Homo sapiens: one gene and its partners. The protein of the gene in region 3 purifies or fractionates together with the protein of the main gene of each other region. This does not show direct contact. Each region holds a gene or a part of one and is shown on either strand. Other genes may lie near its edges. The genes, in order: CHD4, SNRNP70, RBM25, FAM76B, SRRM1, SART1 and SUPT16H.

The links.
Region 1: the proteins of RBM25 (region 3) and CHD4 purify together in Homo sapiens (affinity purification with mass spectrometry; 2 studies listed by BioGRID, with this or other methods). This does not show direct contact.
Region 2: the proteins of RBM25 (region 3) and SNRNP70 purify together in Homo sapiens (affinity purification with western blotting; 2 studies listed by BioGRID, with this or other methods). This does not show direct contact.
Region 4: the proteins of RBM25 (region 3) and FAM76B purify together in Homo sapiens (affinity purification with mass spectrometry, with the first as the bait; one large-scale study listed by BioGRID). This does not show direct contact.
Region 5: the proteins of RBM25 (region 3) and SRRM1 fractionate together in Homo sapiens (co-fractionation; 3 studies listed by BioGRID, with this or other methods). This does not show direct contact.
Region 6: the proteins of RBM25 (region 3) and SART1 purify together in Homo sapiens (affinity purification with mass spectrometry; 2 studies listed by BioGRID, with this or other methods). This does not show direct contact.
Region 7: the proteins of RBM25 (region 3) and SUPT16H fractionate together in Homo sapiens (co-fractionation; one large-scale study listed by BioGRID). This does not show direct contact.

Annotation. Positions count from the first base shown.
Region 1 is NC_000012.12:6,576,380-6,580,658, reverse strand, and holds part of CHD4 (chromodomain-helicase-DNA-binding protein 4), read left to right. Parts: intron 1-1,741; coding exon 1,742-1,813; intron 1,814-1,937; exon of another isoform or gene 1,938-2,106; intron 2,107-2,112; coding exon 2,113-2,250; intron 2,251-2,521; coding exon 2,522-2,630; intron 2,631-2,741; coding exon 2,742-2,874; intron 2,875-4,279. UniProt on the Homo sapiens protein: ATP-dependent chromatin-remodeling factor that binds and distorts nucleosomal DNA. Acts as a component of the histone deacetylase NuRD complex which participates in the remodeling of chromatin.
Region 2 is NC_000019.10:49,102,451-49,106,556, forward strand, and holds part of SNRNP70 (U1 small nuclear ribonucleoprotein 70 kDa), read left to right. Parts: intron 1-976; exon of another isoform or gene 977-1,137; intron 1,138-2,183; coding exon 2,184-2,285; intron 2,286-4,106. UniProt on the Homo sapiens protein: Component of the spliceosomal U1 snRNP, which is essential for recognition of the pre-mRNA 5' splice-site and the subsequent assembly of the spliceosome. SNRNP70 binds to the loop I region of U1-snRNA.
Region 3 is NC_000014.9:73,110,359-73,114,637, forward strand, and holds part of RBM25 (RNA-binding protein 25), read left to right. Parts: intron 1-472; coding exon 473-797; intron 798-950; coding exon of another isoform or gene 951-1,066; exon of another isoform or gene 1,067-1,169; coding exon 1,170-1,444; intron 1,445-1,793; coding exon 1,794-1,892; intron 1,893-3,927; coding exon 3,928-3,975; intron 3,976-4,279. UniProt on the Homo sapiens protein: RNA-binding protein that acts as a regulator of alternative pre-mRNA splicing. Involved in apoptotic cell death through the regulation of the apoptotic factor BCL2L1 isoform expression.
Region 4 is NC_000011.10:95,772,219-95,776,497, reverse strand, and holds part of FAM76B (protein FAM76B), read left to right. Parts: intron 1-474; coding exon 475-576; intron 577-4,279. UniProt on the Homo sapiens protein: Negatively regulates the NF-kappa-B-mediated inflammatory pathway by preventing the translocation of HNRNPA2B1 from the nucleus to the cytoplasm.
Region 5 is NC_000001.11:24,666,877-24,670,895, forward strand, and holds part of SRRM1 (serine/arginine repetitive matrix protein 1), read left to right. Parts: coding exon 1-49; intron 50-106; exon of another isoform or gene 107-211; intron 212-2,246; coding exon 2,247-2,711; intron 2,712-3,243; coding exon 3,244-3,439; intron 3,440-4,019. UniProt on the Homo sapiens protein: Part of pre- and post-splicing multiprotein mRNP complexes. As a component of the minor spliceosome, involved in the splicing of U12-type introns in pre-mRNAs. Involved in numerous pre-mRNA processing events.
Region 6 is NC_000011.10:65,964,256-65,968,534, reverse strand, and holds part of SART1 (U4/U6.U5 tri-snRNP-associated protein 1), read right to left. Parts: intron 4,021-4,279; coding exon 3,965-4,020; intron 3,444-3,964; coding exon 3,317-3,443; intron 3,194-3,316; coding exon 3,088-3,193; intron 2,834-3,087; coding exon 2,756-2,833; intron 2,649-2,755; coding exon 2,549-2,648; intron 2,460-2,548; coding exon 2,317-2,459; intron 2,186-2,316; coding exon 1,979-2,185; intron 1,277-1,978; coding exon 1,152-1,276; intron 1,065-1,151; coding exon 949-1,064; intron 857-948; coding exon 714-856; intron 1-713. UniProt on the Homo sapiens protein: Plays a role in mRNA splicing as a component of the U4/U6-U5 tri-snRNP, one of the building blocks of the spliceosome. May also bind to DNA.
Region 7 is NC_000014.9:21,377,044-21,381,322, forward strand, and holds part of SUPT16H (FACT complex subunit SPT16), read right to left. Parts: intron 1-4,279. UniProt on the Homo sapiens protein: Component of the FACT complex, a general chromatin factor that acts to reorganize nucleosomes. The FACT complex is involved in multiple processes that require DNA as a template such as mRNA elongation, DNA replication and DNA repair.

The DNA of each region.
Region 1 (4,279 bases), on a different chromosome or scaffold from region 3:
CTCGGCTTACTGCAACCTCCGCCTCCTGAGTTCAAGCGATTCTCCTGCCTCAGCCTCCTGAGTAGCTGGGATTACAGGCATGTACCACCATGCTCAGCTAATTTTGTATTTTTTAGTAGAGAGGGGGTTTCTCCATATTGGTCAGGCCAGTCTCCAACTCCTAACCTCAGGTGATCCACCTGCCTTGGCCTCTCAAGGTGCTGGGATTACAGGCGTGAGCTACCATGCCTGGCCGGTATCCATATTAAGCACTACAGATCCCTGTGTGAACCATGGTCACTCGTGAATTTTTGCTGGGGCTGTAGAGATATCAGGAGGAAGCGACACACTGAAGAATCCTGCACCCTTGATTTTAGGTGGCAGGTTTTCCCCTAACTTAAGGTATCTCTTATGACTTTATTTGTTGTTGTTGTTGTTGTTGTTGTTGTTTTCGAGATGGAGTCTCACTCTGTCACCCAGGCAGGAGTGCAGTGGCACGATCTCTGCTCACTGCAACTCCCGCCTCCTGGGTTCAAGCGATTCTCCTGCCTCAGCCTCTGAGTAGCTGGGATTGCAGGCGTGCCACAACCATGCCCACGTAATTTTTTTTTTTTTTTTTTTTTTGAGACGGAGTCTCGCTTTGTCGCCCAGGCTTGAGTGCAGTGGCGCCATCTCGGCTCACTGCAAACTCCGCCTCCCGGGTTCACACCATTCTCCTGCCTCAGCCTCCTGAGTAGCTGGGACTACAGGCGCCTGCCACCATGCCCGGCTAATTTTTTGTATTTTTAGTAGAGACGGGGTTTCACCGTGTTAGCTAGGATGGTCTCCACCTCCTGACCTCGTGATCCGCCCGCTTTGGCCTCCCAAAGTGCGGGGATTACAGGCGTGAGCCACCACGCCTGGCCAAAATTTTTTTTTTTTTTTTTTTTGAGACGGAGTCTTACTCTGTCACCCAGGCTGGAGTGCAGTGGCACGATCTTGGCTCACTGCAACCTCCGCCTCCTGGGTTCAAGTGATTCTCCTGCCTCAGTCTGCTGAGTAGCCACCATGCCTGGCTAATTGTTTTTTTTGTTGTTGTTTTTTTTTTTTTTGAGATGGAGTCTTGCTCCGTCGCCCAGGCTGATGTGCAGTGCAGTGGTGTGATCTTGGCTCACTGCAACCTCCACCTCCTGGGTTCAAACAATTCTCCTGCCTCAGCCTCCTGAGTAGCTGGGATTACAGGCATGCGCCACCACGCCCGGCTAATTTTTGTATTTTAGTAGAGATGGGGTTTCACCATGTTGGCCAGGCTGGTCATGAACTCCTGACCTCAAGAGATCCACCCATCTCGGCCTCCCATAGTGCTGGGATTACAGGTGTGAGCCACCACGCCTGGCTAATTTTTGTACTTTTAGTAGAGACAGGGTTTCACCATGTTGGCCAGGCTGGTTTCTAACTCCTCACCTCAGGTGATCCACCCACCTTGGCCTCCCCAAGTGCTGGGATTACAGGCATGAGCCACCGCACCCAGCTAATTTTTGTATTTTTAATAGAGATTGGGGTTCACCTTGTTGGCCAGGCTGGTCTTGAACTCCTGACCTCAAGTGATCTGCCTGCTGCTGTCTCCCAAGATGCTGGGATTACAGGCATGAGCCACCATGCCCAGCTGACATTACTGTAATTGCAGACATTTAGATGTGGGTCTATCCAATTGGATAATAGTGTGCAACAGAGGAGAATGTTCTTCCTTTAGGTATAGTCTCAATAACATTTCTTCCCCTAGGTGCTGCTGATGTAGAGAAGGTGGAGGAAAAGTCAGCAATAGATCTGACCCCTATTGTGGTAGAAGACAAAGGTGGGTGTTTGGAGAAGTTGATTGTGGTTCAGAAGAACTCTAAAACCAGAAGCAAGGACTGTATCTGCCCTGCCTCCCTGTCCATACTCATCTAGCCATTTTATCCCAAGATAAAAGACTGTACCTGTCCCCACATTTAGTTGTCAGTGGGCCAATGGCACCATTTTCTGGGTCTGAGAGACACCCAGGTGGAGAAGGGGTGTAGGTGGATGGATTCTTGTAGCATACAGTGTTCTGGGTAAGGGCGATGGTGCTGGGCTTTGGCTGGAGCTGACATTTTTCTTCCCCATATTCTGTAGAAGAGAAGAAAGAAGAAGAAGAGAAAAAAGAGGTGATGCTTCAGAATGGAGAGACCCCCAAGGACCTGAATGATGAGAAACAGAAGAAAAATATTAAACAACGTTTCATGTTTAACATTGCAGATGGTGGTTTTACTGGTATGGAAATGAGGGGCCCACCAGGGTTAGAAGGATCTGATGTGAAATTGGGGTTCTTGTCAGAAACCACGGTACAGGGACTTTACCTCTTTACCTCTGTTTGATGAGGGAATGCCAAACTGATAGTGGGTTCTGTGGAGAAAGCCAGAAGCAAATTATATGAAATGGATCCAGGGGTAGGGGATGGTGGGGGACAAGAATAAGTAGCTTTTTCAATTCTCACAGATGTTTGCTTCCCCCCACCCCCAACCTTCCCTAAATTCCTCCTCAGAGTTGCACTCCCTTTGGCAGAATGAAGAGCGGGCAGCCACAGTTACCAAGAAGACTTATGAGATCTGGCATCGACGGCATGACTACTGGCTGCTAGCCGGCATTATAAAGTATCCTTTGCCTGAATCTGTACTGAGGCTTTTGGTGAAAGGTTCTGAAGGTCTTTTAGTTTGAGGTTCTTACTTTCCTTGTTTTGTTTTTCCTGAGCACTTTTCCAATAGCCATGGCTATGCCCGGTGGCAAGACATCCAGAATGACCCACGCTATGCCATCCTCAATGAGCCTTTCAAGGGTGAAATGAACCGTGGCAATTTCTTAGAGATCAAGAATAAATTTCTAGCTCGAAGGTTTAAGGTGAGCGGTTGGGGAGGAATATATTGCTTAAGTGACAAACTTGAAAGTGCGTAACGTCCTGCAGCAGAGGGAGTCTGTCCATCCAGCGCACTGTTCTCACTTTCTTCATTCTATGGAAGGCTTTGCTCCCAAGTAACTTACACATTAGGGTTGAAGACACACAGAATTGAAAGTTAACTAACTGTACATGAGCTGTAGGTGACTATGTGTCCAATCAGTGACACACTAGTGCAGAGGGGTTTGTTTGGGGAACACTGCAGATTGGAGTATTCAGGAAAGATATAGAGGTGGGATTGAATTGCATCTCTGAAGATGTAGAGCTATTAGTCAGTGGGCTGCTGGTTGTTTTTTTTTTTTTTTTTTTTTTGAGGCAGAATCTCTGTCGCCCAGGCTGGAATGCAGTGATGCAGCCTCTGCTCACTACAACCTCTGTGTCCTGGGTTTAAGTGATTCTCCCGCCTCAGCCTCCTGAGTAGCTGAGATTACAGGCGCCTGCCACCACACCCAGCTGTTTTTTTTGGATTTTTAGTAGAGATGGGGTTTCACCATGTTGGCTAGGCTGGTCTCAAACTCCTGACCTCGAAGTGATCCACCTGCCTTGGCCACCCAGATTGCTGGGATTATAGGCATGAGCCACCATGCCTGGCCTGGTTCTTTTTTCTGGGCTAAAAAGTGCCTGTGTGGGCCAGGTGCGGTGGCTCACGCCTGTAATCCCAGCACTTTGGGAGGCTGATGCAGGAGAATCGCTTGAAGTCGGGAGGTAGAGATTTCAGTGAGCTGAGATCGTGCTACGGCACTCCAGCCTGTGCAACAGAGTGAGACTCTGTCTCAAAAAAAAAAAAAGACGTGTCTGTTGTCTCGTACGCTGAGTATAATCGGGGAAGAAATGGTACACTAATAAGCCTTCAGGTATTATGTACTAAGCAATGATGTGCCCAGGGATAAAAAGACAAAGCATGGTATCTGTTTTCAAGGAGCTTTCAGTTTCAAGTAGGAGCACATGTGTAATCAAATGAATGCCATTCTGCATATCAGGAGAGAGATTGCTGATTGGCATAAGAAAGTTCTCCAGAATCGCTTGAACCCGGGAGGCGGAGGTTGCAGTGAGCCGAGATCGCACCACTGCACTCCAGTCTGGCGACAGAGCGAGACTCACCTCAAAAAAGACAAGAAAAGAAAGTTCTCAGAGAGGCAGACACAGTGGCTAATCTCAGCATTTAAAAGAGCTGATTGCTTGAGTCCAGGAGTTCAAGACTAGCTCGGGCAACATGGCAAAACCCCATGTCTACAAAAAATACAAAAATTAGCCAGTTCTGGTGGCGTGCACCTGTAGTTCCAGCTACTTAGGAGGCTGCAATGAGCCTAGATTGTGCCATTGCACTCCAGCCTAGGCATTGGAGTGAGA
Region 2 (4,106 bases), on a different chromosome or scaffold from region 3:
GACCCGGCTTCGTGATGTCAGCGGCGAGGTGGCAGGAACACCGAGGGCAGGGCTCCAGGCCAGGGCTCCACTGGAGCCCTTCAGCCTTCCCTCCCTGCCCCCGTGCTTTCTATGGGGCTGCTACTGTGCTGGCCCTGGAGAGTCTTTTTGGCTGCTAGTTTTGGGGTGCTCTGCCCCCTTTCTGTCTTCCTTACTGTGGTTGAGGCCTCCCGAGGGGGCTGGCTGTGGTGTCCAGCAGCTCTCCAGAGGTGGTCAGGAGCTCCCTAAAGTGCATGGAATTGGGGCTTGGGGTGTGGGAGGGACCAAGGGGTAGGCTGCTAGCAGCTGAAGGTGTCGTAGGTTTTTACTAAAGAACCTTCCACTGTCTAGAGACTTGAGAGAGGGAAAGAGAGAGAGAGGCCTAGACGAACACAATCACATGTTTTCTTTGCTGTTCCTCCCGGGATGGGCCTGTTTTGGGGTTTGGGACTCTGAACCCGAGCGGGGTTCCTTCGCTTGACTTTGATCCTGGTCCTTAAATGCCTTTCCCCACTCCCCTCCCGTGGGTTCAGGGGCCAAGCGGCCCCTCCTCAGAGCACGGGCAGCACCGTCTCCTGGACCCCTGTGTGCCAGCCTCTGCAGACGCAGCTGGTGGGAGGGAGCATGGATTTGGAGGTGGAGAAGTCACTCCTGGTCCTCGGAGGGGGTGGGCTGTGTGCCTAGTTCAGTGTGACTCGGGGATTGGTGAGGGCGGACAGGTTTCTGAGGCCTCCCTAGCCTTCTTTGTAAATTCACACGAGATAGTCCAGGGCTTTCCAGCGCCCAGCTTGGATGATAATCCTCGTCTCCCCCACTCTAAGGCCTCCTTGAGATTTCTTTGGGGTCTACCACGTCCTCTGCCTGTCTCCAGGTGGTACAGGAGATGTGGTTCCTCTCCCTCTCCTGGCTCCCTAGAACCCCCCACTTCCCCTCCCTGTAGCTTTAGCTGACCCCGTGGTGGTGGGTGTGGGGTCTGTGCGCGTGCTCAGGTAAGCTTGGGGGCTCCAGGTAAGCGGTCCCGTGTCCCCCCCCCGGGAAGCCCGCCTCCTCGCCAGGCCCCCAGGAGTTGCCGAGCCCCCCCCATCCCGCTCGGTTTGGACACCCGCAAGGCCGGCATCGGTAAATGGCACCTTTTTCTCTTCCTCTGGTTGTTATTTGGGGGGGAGCGGGCTGGGGCGGGGCAGGGTATTACGGTTGGTTGAGGACAGCCCCCTAGGCCAGGGCTGGGTGGGGGAACGGGGACTTTTTGGCCTTCATGACAGCCCCACGTTGATCACAGGCCAGGGCCTCAGGCTTGCCTTCTGCTACGCGCTGCCCGAGAGCAGCAGTGAGCCTCTCCCCCGTCTCCCCTCTACGACTCCCCTTTCCTGGCAGGCTCAGGCTGGGGTGCGCTCCCAGCACGTGTTGAGCCGGGGGTGTGGAGGGCGAGATGGGGCAGGGCTGGGGGGAGGCAGAGTCAGTCGTCTCAGGTAAGGCAGGGATTTTCAGTAGCACCGCACGGCTCCCCATGCTTCCTCCACTGCCCCTCTCCCCTGCTGCAGGGGCCCCGCCAGGCCCCCTGGGAGTGTATAACCCGCCTCTCTGCTCCCTGCCATTTCCTGAAGATTTCTCCCACCCCCTTCTGGTTCATTTTCTGTTCTGATGTCTGTTCCCCCCACACTCACCCCCCTCCAAAAAAAACAAAAACAGAAAAAACCGGTGTGGTCTGGGGTGCGGAGCGTCCCAGCTGGGCCTCCTGCCCCGGCTTGGTGTCTCAGGGTGCATGCTTGGGGTTGTGGAGGAGCCCCCTCCCCCACAGCAGAGTCCAGCGTGGAGTTAACCTTCAGTTTCTTTGCAGCGATTTTGGCCGCCCTGGCGGGAGGGGGCTGTTCCATCATGTGGGAGAGGAAGGGCCGGGGAGCCTAGGGGGTGGCGGGTGAGGGTGGACGTCTCCCCCGACCAGGAGTGGTTGGGGCGCTGAGAGGAAGCAGACGCTGAGATGGAGCAGGCCCTTCACCGGTTTGGGAGAGGGTTGGTCTGGCTGTCAGTTGCCTGGCTGTCTGTTGGGCGTGTGCGTGTGCGTGATGATGGGGACACGGGGCGGGGATTCTGTAGAGCTGGGCCTGTCCTGACTAGAGGACCCTCTGGGGACTCCTCTCCCCTCCCCCTCCCCACATCTGTTACAGCCGCTTACAAACACGCAGATGGCAAGAAGATTGATGGCAGGAGGGTCCTTGTGGACGTGGAGAGGGGCCGAACCGTGAAGGGCTGGAGGCCCCGGCGGCTAGGTGAGCACATCCTGCCTTCGACGGGCTCTCGGGGGCCCTGGGCCTGGTGGCCTTGTTCTCCCTTCTCTGCTGCTTTCTGCTTCTCTGTCTCCTGCCGGCCCACCTCTCCCATCGCGTCCTCATCTCCGGCTTCTCTCTCTTGTGGCCATCACATTTCTGACAGCTGCCTGCCTCCTCGTTCTGGGTTACTGTGAGGAGCAGGGGCACCAGCCTGGAGAGGCCTGAGCCCACATGCTGGCGTCCGCCCTTGCTAGCTGGGGGTCCCCTTTTCCTGCCTCATTGTACTCCTCTTAGTGGAAATAACCCCGAGTTCACTGAGCTCAGTGTACTGGGCGCCCAGCTTGGCAGTGACGCATGCTGGGGTTGTAAATGTCACTCGCTCATCTGCTTCTGCTGCTTGCTGTTGCTCTTGTTCACTCTTTTACTGATTCAGCAAGTACCTATTGGATCACCAGCTGTGTGCCGGGCTTCTAGTTGAGCAACACAGAGGCAGCCTCTGCCCTCTGAGCCTCCTGCATTCGGTCTCCTCATTGTCATTTGCTGTCTCAGGCAAGGTCAGTTTGGCTGCAAGTATCAGAAATAAACTTGAGCTTCCTGAAACATAAAGGGCCCTGTTGATGTAGAATCATGGGCATCCTTTGGAGTTCGGAGGTATGTGATGTCCGTGGACCTGAGAACCTGGTAGCTGACGCTGTTAAGAGCTGGGGCAACCAGGCCAGGCGTGGTGGCTCGCCTGTAATCCCAGCACTTTGGGAGGCCGAGGCGGGTGGATCATGAGGTCAGGAGTTCGAGACCAGCCTGGCCAAGATGTTGAAACCGCATCTCTACTAAAAATACAAAAATTAACTGGGCGTGGTGGCGGGTGCCTGTAATCCCATCTACTCGGGAGGCTGAGGCAGAGAATTGCTTAAACCTGGGAGGCAGAGGTTGCAGTGAGCCAAGATAGAGTCACTGCATTCCATCCAGCCTGGGTGCCAGAGCAAGACTCTGTCTCAAAAAAAAAAACAAAAAACAAAAAAACTGGGGCGACCCACCTGTGATGTGTGACAGCCCACAGCTTGCTTCTGCCTCGTTTGCCTCCATGCAGCTAGGTCGGTCCCATGCCTCTTTGCACTGGCCCAGCGCAGCAGGCCACAGGCCCCAGCTTTACACTCAGTCCTGGATGAGTCTCTTGTTTCGGGGTGGGCACATTTGATTGACTCAGTGTTGGGCCTGGGGTCCTGTTGCTCAGGCATGCTTATTGAGGACTGAATCCTGCAAAGCTGAGTGACAGTTGTCAGAGAAGATGATGGTCCCTGGGCAGACACCCAGGCAGTAGTAGCCACTTGGGGCTCCTGTCCTGCCTCCCAGCCCTGTGTCCTGGCTCTGGACTCGCCTGTGCTAGGGAGACCACGCTCTCAGCTGCTGAGCCTCGGAGCTTACCAGGCATGTTCTTACCTTACTCTGGTCTCTCTGGGGTGGAGTGGGTTCTTATAGCTCTGCTGTTTCCTGTTGGGGCGGGAAAATGCTAGAATCTCAGTCTTTCCAGAATCTCAGAATCTTCTAGTTCAATTGCCATTCAAACTTTTTGTTGGTGTTAGCCAATAACATCTTGACTCGGTGCACCCGCAGAAATACTGTAACCTAAAGTTTGAGGAAACAGTTTTTTCTATGTAGTAAGTATATAGTTGTATTCTGCTGTTTTGTTTCTTAAGATGTTGGTTGCAACCCATCAGATTGATGATGGGACTCATTTCTGGGTCATGACCTGAATATAGGAAAGGCTAGTCTAGCTGCCCTGTGCCTGTGACATGGCAGGTGCCTGGTCCGCTGCCTGCTTCT
Region 3 (4,279 bases):
GCTTTTTTGTAGAGATGGGGTTTTCCTGTGTTACCCAGGATTGAGCCACTGCCCATGTCCTTTTTTTTTTCTTTTTCTTTTTCTTTTTTTTTGAGATGGAGTCTTGCTTTGTTGCCCAGGCTGTAGTGCGATTCTGCAAGGCTCACTGCAACCTCCACCTCCCAGGTTCAAGCGATTCTCCTGCCTCAGCCTCCTGAGTAGCTGGGATTACAGGCGTGCACCACCACACCTGGCTAATTTTTGTATTTTCAGTAAAGACAGCGTTTCACCATGTTGGCCAAGCTGGTCTCAAACTCCTGACCTCAGATGATCTGCCCACCGCGGCCTCCCAAAGTGCTGGGATTACAGGCATGAGCCACCATACCTGGCCTTTTCTCTTTTCATAAAGATATTTTACAAGAGGTAATGTAAAACAAAAATCAAGTTGAATGGTGTAGAGTTGTAGTTAATCAGATTATTGTTTGGGTTTTAGATGGAACAAGAGGCTGAGAGGCGCAGGCAGCCACAAATAAAGCAAGAGCCAGAATCAGAAGAGGAGGAAGAAGAAAAGCAAGAAAAAGAAGAAAAACGAGAAGAACCCATGGAAGAGGAAGAGGAGCCAGAGCAAAAGCCTTGTCTGAAACCTACTCTGAGGCCCATCAGCTCTGCTCCATCTGTTTCCTCTGCCAGTGGCAATGCAACACCTAACACTCCTGGGGATGAGTCTCCCTGTGGTATTATTATTCCTCATGAAAACTCACCAGATCAACAGCAACCTGAGGAGCATAGGCCAAAAATAGGACTAAGTCTTAAACTGGGTACGTTAGCATTTCCTTCCTTCTTTATTTTCTTCCCTTCACCCCTGCAAATACCTGTATTGTGCTTTAAAGAAAAAAATTTATATTTGTGCTTGGTTAGGTAGATAGAAGATTACTAAAAAATGCCTTTCTAGCTCACGATTGTTTTCATAGTTTTACTAGTGCTCCTATATCTGCAGCTGCCTCGAGTTCTGAGAAGAAGTGAAAAGTTTAATTTTCTAGCACTTGTGAGTAGTGAGTTATTTTTTACAGTTGGGATCTTTCTCTAAGATTTGTGGAAGTATATTTTGCATTGCTTTTGAGGGATGGTGGGTTATAAAATGAAACATTTGGAAATTAAGTCATCTTGCTAAGAGAGTGTTTTTACTGTAGGTGCTTCCAATAGTCCTGGTCAGCCTAATTCTGTGAAGAGAAAGAAACTACCTGTAGATAGTGTCTTTAACAAATTTGAGGATGAAGACAGTGATGACGTACCCCGAAAAAGGAAACTGGTTCCCTTGGATTATGGTGAAGATGATAAAAATGCAACCAAAGGCACTGTAAACACTGAAGAAAAGCGTAAACACATTAAGAGTCTCATTGAGAAAATCCCTACAGCCAAACCTGAGCTCTTCGCTTATCCCCTGGATTGGTCTATTGTGGATTCTGTGAGTAGGAAATTATATTTCATCATATTATTGGGAACAGTTGGAATATGCCATACAAATTCATTTGAAGAAAAAAAAACCTCATTTGATTCTATTAATGACAAATAAGTAGGGATGATCATCTTGACACCAACTCAATGCCATGGTCAAGAAATTAGTAATAATGGAAATTTTTTTTGTGCTACTTGAAGACTTACTAAAAGCAGATGATTGTATCTTGATACATATCTGTCTTAGTTCAACTTGTGAAATAACATTATATTTTAGTCTCAGGAAAAATCATGAAGCTTTAATAACTGTTATAGCAAGTTACAATTCTTTAATTCAGTAACCGTGGTTTGTTTTGCAGATACTGATGGAACGTCGAATTAGACCATGGATTAATAAGAAAATCATAGAATATATAGGTGAAGAAGAAGCTACATTAGTTGATTTTGTTTGTTCTAAGGTTAGTCTTCTATTCTCTTCCATGCCAGCATTTATTTTATATATTAAAATATTAGACACTTCTTAAAAGAGCAGAAATTTTACAGAGTCAAGTTCCATGATGGTTTAGGTTCAGTTAAGTGATTTATATCTGCTTTTTTAAAGTTATTTTTATTTTTGGTGTGTTTTTTTTTATTCACTGCAGTGGATGCAGATTTATGTCTGCTTTAATGAACCTTTCCATCCAACTTCAGACTCCTCACACCACATGTTTTTATTTCAGTGGTCGAGGAGGATGGAATTGCTGGTTACTGCCAATTGTGTGCTGTCTTTCTGCCCCTGAGAATGCTGTGCCATCTTCTTCTTGTCTTGGTTGGAATAATTATGTTGAGATTTTTTGGACGTAGCCAATATCTTTTCCCAACTCCTTTGTCAGTCACCCATCCTTTGGATAGGATCAAAATAGTTCCTTTCATATCGTAGTAACGATCAGTGTTTATTGACTGACAGGCTGTGTTCTCGGCAGGTATTGTGTTAGTTTTGTTTGTTTTGTTTTGTTTTGTTTTTTGTTTTTTGTTTTTGTTTTTTCTTTTGAGTCGGAGTTTTGCTTTGTCCTACAGGCTGGAGTGCAGTGGCGCAATCATGGCTCACTGCAGCTTTGAACGCCCAGCCTAGACTGATCTTCCTGCCTTAGTATCCTGAGAAGCCGGAACTATAGGCATATGCCACCACACCCTGCTAATTTTTTTTTTCTTTTTTTGTTTTAAATTATACTTTAAATTCTAGGATACATATGCATAACGTGCAGGTTTGTTACATAGGAGTACATGTGCCATGGTGGTTTGCTACACCCATCAACCTGTCATCTACATTAGGTATTTCTCCTAATGCTCTCCCTCCCCTAGCTCCCCACCCGCCGACAGGCCCAGCTGTGTGATGTTCCCCTCCCTGTGTCCATGTGTTCTCATTGTTCAGCTACCACTTATGAGTGAGAACATGTGGTGTTTGGTTTACACCAGGCTAATTTTTTGTATTTTTAGTGGAGATGGGGTTTCACCATGTTGGCCAGGCTGGTCTTGAACTCCTGACCTCAAGTGATCTGCCCAAGTTGGCCTCCCAAAGTGCGGGGATTACAAGGCGTGAGCCATCACACCAGCCGAAGATAAAGTTCTATAAAATGTTAACAAGACAGTGGCCCACGCCTTGTAATTCCCGCACTTTGGGAGGCCAATGGGGCAGAACACTTGTGGTCACGAGTTTGAGACCAGCCCGGCCAATATGGTAAAACCCCGCCTCTACTAAAAAGTCAAAAATTGGGTGCGCTGGGTGGCAGGCACCTGTAATCCCAGCTACTCGGGAGGCTGAGGCAGGAGAATCACTTGAACCCGGGAGGCGGAGGTTGAAGTGAGCTGTGATTGCGCCATTGCACTCCAAGCCTGTGTGACAAGAGTGAGACTCTGTCTCAAAATAAAAAAAAAGAAAAAAGAAAAACTTCTTTTAACCTAACACTTAGAATCTGTCTGTCATGAATGTTATACCCATTTTATACATGAAGAAATTGAAGTTTAAGGAGAGATTGTGTCTTGGCTATGTTTTATACTGAGTCTAGCCTCTGAAACCCATGCTCTTAACCACTAAGGTATATCTTCCCATTGTCTCCTGAAAACATAGTCTTAACTTTAATAAAACAGTTAACATAGTAGAAACACCATATTTCTATAAAGGTATAGCTATGGTATTTTTTTGCCAGTAGTGCTCTTTTGATATTATGAACAGTAAATTTACTCTGTCTTCTCTAACTTGTAATTATTGTGGCATTAAAACTTGTGTGAGATTTGACTTAAAATTAGACTACAGACCACTATGGAGATTAATATTCCAGGTTTTGGTGCCTCTTTCGTTGAAGAATGATATTCTGAAAATTAAAACATTTATAGAATGGTTCCTTAGCCGCAAGAAGTTCCTGTATGAATTTGAGGATTCATACCTTAAAATTTCTTGACTGTATTGTTAATTTTTTATTTATTTTTAATGTGACAATTATTTTTCTCTTTTAGGTTATGGCTCATAGTTCACCCCAGAGCATTTTAGATGATGTTGCCATGGTAAGTTAGAAATTCACTATTTTTATTTCTTTTAATTTAAAAAAAGTTTTTGGTTTTTTTTGTCTTAAAATATAGATGGGGTCTCACCACGTTGCCCAGGGTAGTCTTAAATTCCTAGGCTTAAGTGATCCTCCTGCCTCAGCCTCCCAAAGTGTTGAGATTACAGGCATCAGCCACCACACCTGGCCAGAAATGCACTATTATTAATATTTTAATTAACATCTATATAAACTCACTTTTGAATTTGATTCACTTCCTGCCTGTCTTTGTTCCAGAATCTTTTTTAGGCCTGAATTAAAACTTG
Region 4 (4,279 bases), on a different chromosome or scaffold from region 3:
TGTAGCTTTTGGCTGAAAAGACCATTCCTTTTTATATTACCCAGTGTGAAATTTCTTTCTTTAAGCATTGAAAGATTATTTTACGCATAAGCTAGTTTAAATGTTTATATTGTTTTTACTATTATTGAAGTACATTTTTAAATGAGGCATTTTCCCAGTTATTAGCCGTTAAGCTTTTTTCGTTGGCATACCAGTTGCCAAACTCTATTTCCAGTCGAGCCATGTTTAGGAAAAAAAGAAAACTGAGAAGTTTTACTGATGGTCAGGTATTAACATTAAAATTATACTATTGTGAAGCAGATAGACTTCATCATTTCACCAAACAAACTTTAGATAGCTTGTACAATTCAGGAAACTGCAGTTAACATCTTCTACTTTTGTAATGAAATGTGAGTTTATTGTGAAAGTTATTTAAAATGGTGTGTGTGTGTATGTGTGCAAATATATACATATATTTTTTCTTTAATCTCTCAGTTAACTGAACTAAAGGCAGACTTTCAGTACCAAGAGTCAAATTTGAGAACAAAAATGAACAGTATGGAAAAAGCCCACAAAGAAACTGTGGAACAACTTCAGGTAACTACCATCATTTACGTAAAATGATAGGCAAGAAGGGCTAAACTTGAGTAATAGCATTCATTGACTTAGATTGTTATTGGTAGCCCTATTTTGTGCATAGTTGGTGCATTTCAGTTTTGATTTTGACTTTATAATCATTTTTAATCTTGATCTCATTAGAAGTTATTGTTTGAAATTACTTGAAAGGGGGATTCAGTACTTTAATCTTGAAAACTTTTGCCTAAACTTCAAATGGAGTTTTTGGAGGAGGGTATCATTGGAGTGTGTTCAATTAATTATTGGGCTTATAGCAAAAAATTAAAAATCAGATTAATGAAACTAAGGTGAAAAGCAGGTCTTCAGTAGCAATCATTCCTCACATTAATATTTCCTTCCAGATAATGGGAAAGGAGATGGGTGTATAAAACCAATTCTTAAGGACCTGGAGTGGCAAAAATGTGTGCAAAGCAAGAGAGTTTACTTAACCTGTGTACAGTGGTTCGCAAAGTGCCAAATAGGGTTCTGCTAAATGCTAACAGGTAGTGATCCACCTGAACCTCAGAGTACTGCAAAGTAGCAGTTTAAGTATACAGAACAACTGAATGGTAAAGTCAAGAGTCACCACAGTAATAATCTGATGTCTGGCATGCAGAGATGGTGAACATCCAACATGGATACAGAATGCTACCATATTAAGCTGCTTCTCTTCTAGGTTTCATACATTTAGAAATCAGACCACACTAAATTAATTACATGTTCTCTTTGATTTATACAGTCTCACATTTGTAAAATTAGTCTTTAGTAACAAAATTTTTAAGGTGAAAGAAGTTTTAAATGTTAATGGAAGATGGCAGCACACAGACGTCAGACTTGGGAGAGTACAGCTTCAGAAGGAAGGAGTTAATACTGTCCTGTTTCATTTTGTTTTTTTTTTTTCACATTGTAACACCAAAGGATATTTGCTATTTCTTTCTTTTGGTTTTGTATTATTCATACTTCTTTGCAAGTAGCTTAAATTAGTAGGATTTAGGAACTTGCTCAAATTCGAGGTACAGATTATCTGGTCTTAATCCCTATCATACTATTACAAAGACTGTTGAAAAAGGAACCTCATGTAGAACCTGAGACATAGTAGGCATTCAAATAATTTGTTGACTAGGTGGTGATTTATGGAAATGCCCATCAGCCCTCTGTTCTGAGAGATTGCCCGTATCATATATCAGATTCTTATATATTAGTCAATGTTTTTATCCACCAGCAAGTATTATTTTTAATTTTATGTTATTCCTGTTTTTCTTACTCAGTTATTAATGCTGAATGATTACCTGGAACAAAATCTTCCACCTGGTGATCTTTGATTTAATGTAATGTAACCAAAGCTCTGAAGTAAATCCAGAATGAGATAACAGAATAACTGCAATAGGTGCTCAGATATGTTTTAACTTAGTGCTCCCCACTGTTCAAAAGAGCAGTTTGTGTGTTGGTTTTTCTTTTTTAAAATCATAGTTGCAAATACATGGGGTCATCTTTGACTTAGCCTGATAGATATCTTAGGCCTACCTCCTCTTGGTAATTGAAGTTTCATGTAGTATAAAAGTAACCAATATTTAAATAGGACATTTTGACATGATTTTACATATGCTGTCTTACTTGTTGCAAAAACTGGGTTATGTGATATGCCCATTTTACAGAGGAAACTGTGATCACACAGTAAGCGGTGACGTAGAAATCTCTGTCTTCTCACTCCAGTTTATCTATACTTTTCCCTGTCCTACACTAGTTCCCACCACTTCAGGTTCCTCAGGTTTTCTATTTCATCCTTCCTATCAGGCCACTTCCCTGATTTTTTTGTGTTATGGCTAGAGACAATCTGTCATAGCTGAGTGCCATCTTTTTACCTCACTTCCTTTAGCAACCAAGTGATACTAGTAGGATTCTTTACTGAGGTGAGGAAACCGGTAATTTTTTTTTTATCTTTATGTAATAAGGAATTGAATCCTGTGACACAAGATGGATCTTGCTCTAATAGCTAGTAAAATATTTTTAACTGCCAAACCTACGACAAAACACTGAACATCACATGAAAAAATTGTTCAAAATGTCACCCCAAAATACCCCAAATATTGAAAATACTAAGAATATCAAGTTAAAACTCTTATTCACTTAATTAGGTAAGTGGTTAAAAGGAAAAGGGACCTAACATTTGAGTGCCTTCTGTGTACCAGGAACTGTGTTAGGCTAAGTGTTTTATATATTTGATAAGTTCCTTCAACTCATTTTGAGTTCGGATGGTGGAGTTTGTGTTACAAATGAGAAAATATGCTCCAGGTTATGTAGCTGGTAAGTAAGCCAGGATTTAAAGCAGGATCTATGTAATTCTTAATCCTGATATTCTTTCCTTTGCACCAACATGTCTAAACTTTAAAACTTAGCTTTCTTAAGAGTCTGTAAAGAATTTCATTGATTTTTTTTTTTTTTTTTGGCTGGCTGCAAAATGAAGTAATTTTAGGATAAAACAATTTAAATGTACATATATTGAAATATGGCATAAAATTCATTTTTAAAGTATTCAAATTAGAATAATTTGGACTTGTACTTAACAATTGTGTTATTTATTTACCATAAAGACTTTTGTCTTATGTAATTTATTAAGAAATATCTTTATTAGTGATATAAATATATTAAAAGCAAATTGGAAATTAGCTACCAAAGCATTAAATGGAAAAATTGCTTTGAAGACCTAATGTTCAAATTATTGTATTTTGTACTTAAAATATGAAAATTATAAACACTTTATTTCTTGATAATTGAGATAAGAACTTGGAGATTCACATTTTAACTATTTTGTATCAGTATAAACATTTTTAGATAAATATAACTTAACAGATCTAGTGGAGATCTTTTTGAGTCAAATTTGCAGACTCAAAATTTGAAATTGATACTGAATTTGAAATTGAAGTTTTTCGTTACCACCTTAGTTATTAATAACCACTGAATAGGAAAGTTCTATTGATCATGCATCTGAACATAAAAAATTATTTGATTTGCACATATAAGATAGTACTGAGAATATTTGCATTTTAGAGGTCATGGGTGTTAATTAGCAAGAGTGATTGGAGAAGAAGGGTGGGGGAATGGAAGAATAAAGTTTGAAAAAGGTTATTTCATGAAACCACTTTAAGATGGCATACAGAGAAGGCAGAGTGTTATCTGCCCGTAAAAAGCTAAAATTAGAATAAAATATGAAGTACTGAGATTAAAAAAGTCTGTCTATATAATAAAAATTCCTGGAACCTGTGAAGGAAAATGGTGTTGAAACATAAGTCAGAGGATATCTTTTTAAAATGTGTTAATTTTAGGGCAGTGCTCTATTTTCATCACTTTCCCCATTTTGGCTCAAACTACAAAAATGCTTGATCATTAATGTATTTGTATATATAGGGATCCTTACTATCTAAGTTTTCATATTTAAGAGACTGAATAAGGTGACAAAGGCAGTCAAAATGTGAAAATATTCACTGTACTTACACATTCCTCTTCACTAAACTAGTGATGGATGGACATTTAATAATGAAATTCAAGTCAGATGATGAAATGAAATTTTGAATCTTTGTAAAAATTCAAGCTTTCATGAGATAGGAAATGATGATGTGGAACTGCTCAAACCACACTAAAATCAGTGTCAGATGACTGGTAACTAAAGGAACAACAAGATAATGAG
Region 5 (4,019 bases), on a different chromosome or scaffold from region 3:
CCCCTCCTCCTCGACGGCGCAGGACTCCCACACCACCACCACGACGAAGGTACTTTGTCAAATATGCTAACTGGAGCATCTCCCCAACTCCCCCCGCCCCTGATAACATCAGATGAGTAATGGTGCTCACTTCCTAACAAGGTTGGAGAGAGGCACAGCTCATGTGTGCATGTGAAAACCCAATCATCATGCTTATGAACTACAAAAGGATCTCTGAATCTTTCTGATGATTATATCTTATTAGAGTAAGCAGACTAGCATTGTTCAGCCAGTCATAAAAGAACACGTATGATTCCATCTATATGAAAAGTCTAGAATACACAAATCTATAGAGATAGAAAACAGATTAGGGTGGGGTGGACATGGGGATGGTAATAGCTGCAGAACTATATGAATATACTAAAATCATTTAATTGTATACTTTAAATGGACCTTAAATGGGTAAATAGGTAGATTTTATAGCAGGTGAATCATGTATTGTCATAAAGATGTTAATACATTAAAAGATGGTATTGACTAGTAATTGTAAAGAGAAAATTTAGAGGATACTGGCAGATATCTCTTACCTAAATAATCAAAGATAACATCCTCAATAAAACATTGGCATCGTGTATTTCCTGGATACCTCTGTAGTATGCTTACCAATTATGCCAAACCTCAGTCTTATTATTAGGAAATAATCAGACAAACCCAAATTGAAAGTCATTTTACAGAATACCTGACCAGTATTCAAAAGTGTCAGTCATGAAAGACAATGACAGAAACAGTCACAGATTGGCAAGAACTAAAGAGATGTAGGGTCCTGGAGCAGAAAAGGAACATTGATTAAGTCCTGGAACAGAAAAGGGACATTCAGTAGTGGAAAACTGGGTTGTTTGCTATTTTAGTAATACTAAGTTATCACTGAGGTTCATTTTACAGTTTTGCTAATTTTCTTATGGTTATATAAAATATTAGCATGGTGAAGTGGCAAATCTCCTATTTTTGTAGCTCTTCTTTACAACTATTTTAAAGTGAAAATTAGGGGAAAATGTTTTAATGTCATTGCTCGGATATGTTGCCAAGCAATGTAATGACATGCTGCCACTCTTTTTTTTTTTTTTTTTTTTTTTTTTTGAGACAGTCTCACTCTGTCACCCAGGCTGGAGTGCAGTGGCCGATCTCAGCTCACTGTAACCTCCGCCTCCTGGGTTCAAGCGATTCTCCTGCCTCAGCCTCCCGAGTAGCTGGGATTACAGGCATCTGCCACCACACCCAGCCAGTTTTTGTATTTTTTGTAGAGATGAGGTTTCACCATGGTAGCCAGGCTGGTCTCAAACTCCTGACCTCAGGTGATCCGCCTCAGCCTCCCAGAGTGCTGGGATGACAGGTGTGACCCACTCTGCCCAGCCTGGCTGCCACTCTTGAATGCCTGTTAAGTGCCAGGCAAAGTGCTAGGTGCTTTATATGCTTTACTACTAGTCTTCAAAGCGACCTTGCTTGATAGTTGGTATTGTTTGCATTTTTCAGGTGAGGAAATGGGAGTTGAGAATTACTAAGTAATTACCCAGATACAGTGATGAAATTGTGCCCTACCACATTGCCAAAATATATGGCCTATTGTAAAGCTAACTCTGGGCAGGAATTTACTTTGATCTAAAAGTCTGCAATATCCAAGAGGAAATTAGGCAGTTTGGCCTGAAAAGTGGCCTTTTGAGACAGAAAATGGAACAGTCTCTTTGAGGGGAGGTAGAAGTGTCTTTAAGGCTTGTGCAGTGAACTCTTAATTATTCATACAGTGTCCAAATGCTCATTCAGAGAGGATACCACATAGGAGACCTCTTTAAAGTGCAGACTTCCTAAGGTGACCATAATAGAGTTTTGCTAATACAGTTACTTGGTTATTATATAATAACTGATGTTCAGTTAATACAGTGCAAGATTCTGTTTTCAAAAAACGTTAATTTTGTATAGATGTTAAAAGATTGACAAATTCACATCTTCTGAAAATTGCAAATTTTTGTTAATCAAAATGTCTTTTTTTCTTTTTTGTACTTAGTCCTGCAGACAGTGTCCTGTGTTGCAGTCAGCTGAGATAAACAAGTTTTATTGATATTTAAGTGAGAATATAAAGATAGCATGTTCACTTATAAATATATTCCCTTTGCCTAGTGCTAACTACAGTATAGCCAAACCTACTGATTACTTTTCATCCTGTTTCTGTATTTTGTTGAGCCTTTCAGCTTAATTATGTATCTTTTTCCTAGGACTCCTTCTCCTCCCCCACGTCGGCGCTCACCTTCTCCTAGAAGATACTCTCCTCCAATACAGAGGAGATACTCTCCTTCTCCACCTCCAAAGAGAAGAACGGCTTCACCTCCTCCCCCTCCTAAACGAAGAGCATCACCATCTCCACCACCAAAGCGGCGGGTCTCCCATTCTCCACCTCCCAAACAAAGAAGCTCCCCAGTCACCAAGAGACGTTCACCTTCATTATCATCCAAGCATAGGAAAGGGTCTTCCCCAAGCCGCTCTACCCGGGAGGCCCGATCACCACAACCAAACAAACGGCATTCGCCCTCACCACGGCCTCGAGCTCCTCAGACCTCCTCAAGTCCTCCACCCGTTCGAAGAGGAGCGTCGTCATCACCCCAAAGAAGGCAGTCCCCGTCTCCAAGTACTAGGCCCATTAGGAGAGTCTCCAGGACTCCGGAACCTAAAAAGATAAAAAAGTAAAAATATTTTATGCTTTTCCATTAGGAATACTTACATAGCTGTTTATATTTGGAAGCTTCCCCCCACCCCCATATAAAAGGAATAAGTTATGAATATGAGCTTTTAAGTCAAACTTGAGGTACTATTTACAGATCTTATTCCATTTTTTGGGATAGTTTCTGTGGTATAAGTTAAATGCCACAGGCTTTTACTTGGTTCTTAGCAGTTATTAATTTGTTTTTGAGGGGTATGCTTCCAAAACTAAACTTGAGTAAGACATTGAACATTTCTTGTGTGTGATGTAAGGAACTGACATTACTAATCTTACATAAGAAGCATCATTAACAGAATAGATAGAGGATTATGGGGCTTTAGCCACCCTCTGGGAAACATAGGTAATGTAAATTGGATATATGTTAGTTGAATCAACCAGCAATCTAAGTGGTATATTTGAAATTCATAACCTGGTTGTACAGTGTAGTTGGTGGTTTTCTCATGTGAAGAGAGATGGCTGTTCTCAATGCTGAATGTTTTTTCCTTTTTGTCTAGGGCTGCTTCCCCAAGCCCACAGTCTGTAAGAAGGGTCTCATCCTCCCGATCTGTCTCCGGGTCTCCTGAGCCAGCAGCTAAAAAGCCCCCAGCACCTCCATCCCCCGTCCAGTCTCAGTCACCGTCTACAAACTGGTCACCAGCTGTACCGGTCAAAAAGGCCAAAAGCCCAACACCGAGCCCATCACCGCCAAGAGTATGTGTCTGCCTTATTTTGGACACCCTTTTATAAATATGTATATGGTCACTTTGAAGCAGAGAAAATGTCATTGGGGCATTAAAATATTGGTGTTTAAACTTTTTTTCCCATTTGTGAGTTATACATCTGATCTTGGGCAGGTTTCTGTATTGCATAAAATCAGTGGTTAGGTGTCCATCTGTTTTTTGTTTGTTTTTGAGACAGGGTCTCATGCTGTCACCCACGCTGAGTGCAGTGGGATGATCATAGCTCACAGCAGCCTTCCTGGACGCAGGTGATCCCTTCGCCTCAGCCTCCCAAGTAGCTGGGATTATAGGCACATGCTGCTACACCTGGCTGGTTTTTTGTTTTTAACTTTTTGTAGAGACAGGGTCTTGCTGTGTTGACCAGGCTGATCTTGAACTCCTAGCCTCCAGTGATCCTCCTGCTGTGGCCTCAGATGTCCATATTTAATTGGGTTGACTGAATAGTTGTGCAAGCTAACTTGTGAGGAATTTTAAGTAATTGCTTAGAAGTGTGAAATTGAAATATTATGGATTAAATTATAGGAGCCTGCTTTTTGCATAAATTTGGTATG
Region 6 (4,279 bases), on a different chromosome or scaffold from region 3:
TGGTTTACTGAGTGCCCAGCTCCCACCACCATCAGAAATTACCGTTCCTGCATTAACAGTCACTGCTGCTCCCCACGCTCTCCCCCACACACTCTAGAAAGCCAGCTCCATGAGCCCAGGGCCCCATGGCTATCCTGTTCACCAATGACCTTCTCAGCCCAAGAACAATGCACTACTCACAGCAGGCATTCAACAAACATGCACAGAAGAGAGAGGCAAGGAAAGGATCCCCTACTAAAGCAGGCATCTAAAAATTTTTGCAAAACATGACTTTAAACAGAATAGAGGGCTGGGCACGGTGGCACACACCTGTAATTTTAGCATTTTCGGAGGCAGAGGCAGGCAGATCATGAGGTCAGGAGTTGGAGACCAGCCTGGCCAACATAGTGAAACCCCGTCTCTACTAAAAATATAAAAATTAGCCGGGTCTGGTGGCGTGCGCCTGTAATCCCAGCTACTCAGGAGGCTGAGGAATAAGAATCACTTGAGCCTGGGAGGCGGAGGTTGCAGTGAGCTGAGGCTGCGCCACTGCATTCCAGCCTGGGCGAAAGAGCGAAACTCTGTCTCAAAAAAAAAAAAAAAAAACAAACCCAGAAAACAAAAAACAAATGGAAAAGAGGCTTCAGACAGGAATGTGGCTGTCGCCTATGACACAGGTGCTCGTGAGGACAGGTGACTGCTGACGCAGTCACCCTGCCCATGCCCAGCCTCACCTTCTCGCCACTGTCTCGCAGCTGCTGTAGCTGCTGTAACTGTCGCAGCCGGCGTCCCTTCTCCAGCTGCTTCTGCAGCTCCAGCTCCGCCTCGTCCTCCTCCAGCACCTGCGGGGACCCCGGCGGTGGAGCTCCACCTTCCTCTGGGGGAAACACAGGGGATGCCTGCTCAGACCATCTCCTCCAACCCGCGGCTCCTGTCCCTGCCCCTCCCACCCCCTGGCCGGGCCCTCACCCTCATCACTGATGTCCATGTTCTCCACTCGGGTGTCGTCCGACGGCAGGGGCTGAGGCACAGGCTCCTTCTCCTCCTCCACTTCGGACACTCGGCGGCGACCCCGTCCCCGCAGTCTGAGGGAAGGAGGCCTCTCTGGTGAGCACCGGTCCCCAGGCCACCCCAGCCCAGCCATCTCGCCCCACCACCGTGTCCAAGCCCACCTGGAACCAAAGTCCCCATCCTGAGTCTGGTCCCCGAGAGGCAGCAAGTCATCTGCCCGCACTACTACCTCCTTCTCCTTCTTGCGGATTTTCTTCACCCTCCGCTTGGTCTTTTTAAAGGTCACCTTAAGGGAAGAGGGGCGAGACATGGAGCGGGGGCCACAGAAAGGCAGGTCGCCACAAGCCCTCGAGGGTGAACACTTCTTTGGTGTTCCTCTGTGCTAGCCAGCGTCCTGAGCGCTTCCCACACATGAGCAACATGTGGGGTGGTTACTATCTCAATTCCACTGGTGAGCTAGGGAAACTGGGGCACAGGGAGGTTAAGTACCTTCCCCAAGGTTGCCCAGCTCCTAGGTGGGAGAGCTGGGCAGTCTGGCTCCAGAGTCCTGCTCTTACCCACTGAGGAAGACGCCTACCGCGCCAGCTGTCTACCTCACGTTCACACAGTCACCCTGTGGACAGAATCCACGCACACCTCTCCAGTCACCCCTCACCCACGCTGTCACTCATCCTCACAGCAACCTCAGGAGGCGGCTCCTGTCACTGCCATTCCAGATGGGGTGCCCCAGGCTCACAGTTAAATGGTTTATCCAAGGCACGAGCTGGCAGCATGGCAGAGCCGAAACAGACTGGGGCCCATCTGGCTCAGCAGCCCTGACCCATCCACACCTGGTGCCTCCCCCGGTTGCCATTTAGTGCTCACCCGCGAGGCCAAGCGCTTTGTGAACACAAATACTCGCCCTGTCTTCTCAGTGCCTGCGGGCAGGGCAGGAGCCCCAGAGGGAGGGAGAATCTTGACCCCGAGTATAAGGCACGGGAGGGCTCACCATCTCCTCAGGCGTGAGGTATTCGGAGGCCAGCCGGGGCCCCACTGTGCTCAGGGACTGAGCCTGCAGCCGCAGCTTGGCCCGGATCTCCTCCAGCTCCCGCTCCCGCAGGCCATCAGCCGTGCCGCCCTGCTCCAAGCGGAAGGAATGTGGCCGCTCCCCTTCAAGCTCTTCGTCATACTTGGACAGGATAGAGCGAGGTTTTTGCTGCAAGGCAAGAGGTACAGGTTGGGACCCAGGCTGGCTCCTGAAAAGCCACTGAGCCACCACCTCCTCAGAGCCCCCATTCCCGACATTCTCCACCTCAGCCCCCGCCACCCAGCCTGCCCAGGCCGTGCCTGCGCCAGGTCGTCCACGCTCTCGTCCTCGGCATAGGGCAGGTAGTCAGGCTTCTTCTTCCGCAGCTCCACATTTTTCTCTGCCCGCTCCTTATCCACCAGGTTCACGTTCACCAGCACGTCCTCCTCCTCCTGCAGCACGCCTGGGGGCAGCACAGAGCAGTGGCCATTCACACTTGTCCGCAACTCAGCAGAGGCTGTGCCCCCACCCAGGGCACCCAGCTCGCATTACCTTTGTCCTTGAGGGTAAGAATCATTGTCTCCCCTTCTCGGAAGGAATCAATGGCATGCTCCACGGTGAGGCCCTGCAGGTCCCGGGCACTGTACAGGTCCTAAGGGAAGAATCGGCGAGTCAGGAACCTCCCTCCACGCACCCAACCTCGGGATTCCGGTAGCAAGGCCACCAGTGTCCCCTGTACCACCCCTGCTGCAGCCTCACCTGCCGCCTCTGCCCGAACTCCTCCTCCACCAGAGTGCTGACACCAAACTCTTGGTCCATCTCCTCCAGTAACTTGGCCTACGGGACAGGGAGGGGTGACCTAGGACTTCAGGCCACTCAGCATCACCAGAAAACACTCAGGGCTCTACCAAGCGGAGTGCAAAAAGGGCAGGCCTTGCAGGAAAGCTGCTGAGAATCCAAAGTAGATGCTACCGACCACGGCCCTTCCCTTCTCCAAGCCCCGTCTCACCTCTCTGGGGTTGGCCCCCGCCTCAGTGCCGTCAGGCCACCAGAAGCACTAGGCGACCACCCCATGCTGCCCAGGTGCTCACCCTCTTCTCTGCCAGGTCCTTCTCCTTCTGCAGCTGCCGGCTCCTCTCGATCCAGGCTGCAGTGTCGTCCAGCCAGGGGTCATCCTCTCCTAGGGTCTTTATCTTCCTGAAGAGGGGAAAAAGTGATGCTCAAGGAGCCCAGCTCCTGCTCCCCACCCCACTCAAGAGGCAGCCAAGGATGGTGGCCTCCCCAGCCCTTCCCTTGCCTGCCCTGGCCAGGACCCCTCACCCCAGCTTTTGGTTCAGCAGGCGCTTCTCCTTGGCAGCCGCCAGCTTCTCCCGCAGCTCCTCTCGCTGTCGCAAGGCCATAGGGTTGATGACATCAGCTGTCACGGGCTCCTCCTTGGTGCCCGCCTCTGGAAGGGGGGCCCAGACGTGAGGCTATGCCCGCCCATGGCTGGTGGGGAGAGGAGGGAGCCACTCACCCTGCCCCCTTCCAGCTCAGGGGGCCAGAAGGGGTCAGGACAGGAAGGAACAATCCTTCACCTCCCTGCTCCCACTTCGTCCCCACACTCCTGGCCAACCCATGCAGCACAACAGGACCCTCTGTGGCTTCCAAAGCCCCTCAAATCGTGCTTTAAAGAAAAACAAGAAACCCACCCCCGCACAGCGCAGTCTGCAGCAAGTGTGCACATCTTCCAGTCCATCTAACAACTCACAGCCAGAGTGAGTATGCGACGGCCACAGCTCCAACTCAGAGAGCAGGCGGAGCCCCAGATCCCCATTATACCAGCAAGGAGGGACCTCATGCCTTCCGGCAAATATGCATGTGTAAGACCACTAAACAGTGCTGAACCTGCCCTCTAACCCCACCTTCTTCAAAGACCCCTTCAGATGGCCTCTTTCCCCCAAACCCTATCCTCAGCCCCATACTCACCCTTCTTGATGGCATTAACCTCCAAGGGTTTCAGCCCCAACTTTGCCCGGAGTTTGCTGACAACAAGAGATACAAGTGTTAGGGGCTATTAAAGACACAGGGTGCCATGTGCATTTCCAGACAGACAAGAGGAGAAACAGGGTGGGAGTGAGTGGTCCCAAACACAAAGTCTGCCCCAGGCAGCCTAGGACACTGGGAAGGGCCCTGGCCTCCAAAGCAGGAAACATGGGCACCAGCCTGGTCTGCGTCTAACCAGTGAATGCCACTTTACTCTTAGGTTTTAGTTTTCTCTTCTATAAGTCAACTGTTGGCTAA
Region 7 (4,279 bases), about 52 Mb from region 3:
GCGACAGTGAGACTGTCTCAAAGAAAGAAAAAGAAAAAAAAAAAAAAAAAAAAGATCAACAATGAACAGATTTAACCAAAGAGGTCTAAACCTTACTGAATAGGAATTTCAGAAACAAAAGACATCACTAAGGAAATGCAGGGACCAAAATGATCAAATAATGCACCATCCTAGGACTGAAGAATATGAGCTTGAGACTAAAAGGATTTCCCCAAAAGAGACATATCAAAGCACATTGCTGTGCAATTTCAAAACAGAAGGGATGATTCTAAATTTCAGAGAGAACAGGCTATGTATGTATACTGGAAATAGAATCATATCAGCCTTCTCAAAAGTAACACTGAAGTCTTTGACGCCAAATAATGGCTTCAAAATTCTGAGCAAAAAATGATTTTCAACACAGAATTTTATACCTACTGCATTAACAAAGCCAATAGAGTTGACTTTGGTTAACTATATTATTAACCAAAAGTGAGGGCAAACTAGCACTTTAAGACATGCAAGGGCTGAAGACATTTATATTCTATGCATCCTTTTTTTTTTTTTTGCATGGGGTTACAGTGGAGCTAGTGGTGAGCTTTTTATTTATTCTTTTTTTGAGACACAGTCTCACTCTGTTGCCCAGGTTGGAGTGCAATGGCACGATCTCAGCTCACTGTGGCCTCTGCCTCCTGGGTTCAAGCGATTCTCGTGCCTCAGCCTCCTAAGTAGCTGGCATTACAGGAATGTGGCACCATGCCTGGTTAATTTCTGTATTTTTAGTAGAGATGGGGTTTCGCCATGTCGGCCAGGGTAGTCTTGAGCTCCTGGCCTTAAGTGATCTGCCCACCTCGGCCTCCCAAAATGCTGATATTACAGGCGTGAATGAACCACTGCGCCTGGCCCATCTTTTCTTACGAAGTTCTTAGAGAAAATGTGCTAAAGAAAAAACAAAGCAGAGGCTCTTGGATATAGGGGACCCAATATTGCAAAGTCCCGAGGTTCAACAGGCCTAAAGAGTAACCTATACAGATGGAGCAGGATAATGTGGGGGGTGGAAGTGGGGAGTGAGGTTGCTTTTAAGCAACAGAATAAAATTCTGAGTGTGAGAAATTTAGAATAAAAGACTGGTAACAGGATAATGTGGGGGGTGGAAGTGGGGAGTGAGGTTGCTCTTAAGAAACAGAAGAAAATTCTATGAGTGTGAGAAATTTAGAATAAAAGACTGGTAACATTATAATAGATTTATTGGAAAAAATTAAGGCTAGGGAGACTTTTTTTAAAGGAGAAAAACTGAGGAAATCATTAATGCCAGGAAAAATAAAAAACTGTAGAAAAAAAGGAAAGTTAATCATACTTTATTACTTCACCCAGCAGTGAAAACATCTATATGAACATAAACAATGTAAATAGTAACTACTTATTTTACTAAAAATTGTGGGGAAAAGTTATGAAGAAGGATGGATGTGTGATAAAGCAAGTACAACAAAATGTTAACTGTGTGGGGTGGTGGGTATAAAGGGTTTACTTAAAATTCTTTCAACTTTTCTGTCTTTAAAATTTTTCATATCAATGTGTCAGGAGAAAAATGTTAAGGTATCAGGAGGTAGGGAAGTTGGAATGAGTGTGATGACACAAAGAAGTTAAATTCAGATTTACCATAAGTTAATAACCGTTAAAAATTCACAAATCAAGAAATAGCAGTATATATAGATATTATTTAGAAATATGAAAGAAACAAAAAACTCAAAGTGGTTGCCTCTGGGATAGGTGACTTTTTGTTTTAAGGCTTTTATTAGAACTATGACTTTTAAAAAACTATATCTATTACTGATTAAAATAATTTTGAAAGTGAGAGTTAAATAAAATATAAAACAGGTGGCAAAGAATCTGCAAAAATTGTGAAGGTGGTATCTGGATGATAAAAGTTGGAGAAATAGTGCAGCAGCAGAACAACTATCTTCCTTTGAACCAAACTGATACTGCCTTAAAAAAAGAAAGTATTTTTGCAGTCTGGTTGTAGCTAAATACCCATATAATCAGTTACCACTGTTCACTGAGTGACTTCTATATGCCAGGCACTGTAGTTGTTAATAGGGATAAAAAGTAAATATAAAAAGTAGAGATCTAGGGCTGGGTGTGATGGCTCATATCTGTAATCCCAGCACTTTGGGAGGCTGGGGTGGGTGGATTGCTTGAGGCCAGGAGTTAGAGACCAGCCTGGCCAATATGGTGAAACCCCATCTCTACGAAAAATACAACAATTAGCCGAGCATGGTGGCACACACCTGTAATCTCAACTACTCAGGAGGCTGAGACACGAGAATTGCTTGATCCCGGGAGGCAGAGGTTGCAGTGAGCTGAGAATGCTTCACTGCATTCCAGCCTGGGTGGCACAGTCAGACTGTCTCAAAAAAAGAAAAAAAAAAAAAAAGTAGAGAACTAGACTATAAAAGCTGAGTAAGCAATATTTAAAAAAAAATCTCAATCCATCTGGGCATTTATTTCCATCTAACCCTCCTTACTCAGCATTATTAAAAAGTTTCTTGGCCAGGTGCAGTGACTTACACCTGCAATCTCAGCACTTTGGGATGCCGAGGTGGGCGGATCGCTTGAGCCCATGAGTTTGAGACCAGCCTGGGACAACACGGTGGAACCCTGTCTCCACAAAAAATACAATAAAATAAATAACAATAATAATAATAATAAAAATTGGTCAAGTGTTGTGGCATGCACCTGTGGTCCTAGCTACTCAGGAGGCTGAGGTGGGAAGATCACCTGAGGCTGGTTTGGTTGAGGCTGCAGTGAGCAGTGATTGTGCCATTGCAATCCAGCCTCAGCCACAGAGTGAAACTCAAAAAACAAACAAACAAACAAACAAACAAACAAAAAAACCTTTCTCTATCCCACTCCAGAGATAAAGGAGCTATTAAGAGCTGAGTGTGAGTGGAAGTAATCCACTGCCTGACTGAAATAACAGGAAATGCCTATACAGCTGGCTCTCCTTATCTGTGGATTCAACTGTGTACTGAAAATTAAAATGGCCAAACATTTTTCTATGTCATTACCCCCTAAAAAATAAGTATAACTATTATTTACATGCACTTACACTATATTCGGTATTATAAGTAATCTAGAAATAAAAAATAATGGGAGGATATACATAGGCTATGCAAATATGCCATTTTGTTATCAGAGACTTGAGCATCCTTTGATTTAGGTATCTAGGTATGTCCTGGAAGCAATCCCTGACAGATACTGATGGAAGACTGAATTTTTTTTTTTTTTTTAAAGAAATGGGCTCTCTCTCACTATGTTGCCCAGGCTGGTCTTGAACTCCTGGACTCAAGCAATCCTTCCACCTCAGCCTCTGGAGTAGCTGGGATTATACAGGCATAAGCTACTATGTATTTTTTAAAATCCTTCCTGAGCCACAGAACATAGCTGTTGAATCTTAATAGAACAACCCAGAACAAGAAACTAAGCCACCATAAAAATCTGCAAAGAGCCAGAAAGCTCCACTCAAGAGAAGCACTGACACTTTAATTCATTAGTTTCTTCAAAGGCATAAAATTTCTTTGGGGTCAGTCTTCCACTACCCCAATCCTGACAGTTGGTGTATGCTCACAAGAATGTGAGTATTCCTTCTGAAAACAAATATTTTTGACATTTTATGGAATTCTTCAAGAAAAAAGGCAGATGAAGTCAAGGTCCACTCATATCAGAATGTCCCAACAGGTAGGTCTCAAATGATATACAGATATGCCTGGATATTGTACCACTCAGCCCTCAAGGCAGCTGGAACCCTGGGATGGTAGATAACCTCTTTTGTTTCTCCCAATGACCAGCACTAATCATATTACTTGGTTAAAAATAATCGTAATCATGAAAAGGCTGGCAATCCCTGAAGAAGGATCTAGTAGGCATAAGAGGACAAAGAAACATGCAGCCCATTTCCAGGAACCACCACTACCACCTGCGATATTCTAATAATACAGAGAAGGTGCTGCAAATCCTTTCTGCTCTTAGCAGCTCTCACTTAAAACATAAGAGGCAAGACTGGATCTAGACTCAAACCTCCAGGAGTCATAAAACAATAGTACGTTCTAAGGTCTCCTGTTGATTTTTGACTGACTCCATTTTCCCATCTCTAAAATGACACGATTTACTTAGATACAGGGCTTAATATTTTTGAAATTTCTATTCAGTTAAAAGTACATGGTAACTACAATTGTTTTTAGGACATAAGTTATGAAAATTATAATTAAAAAATATTTTATTTGCAATAGCCTCAAAATAT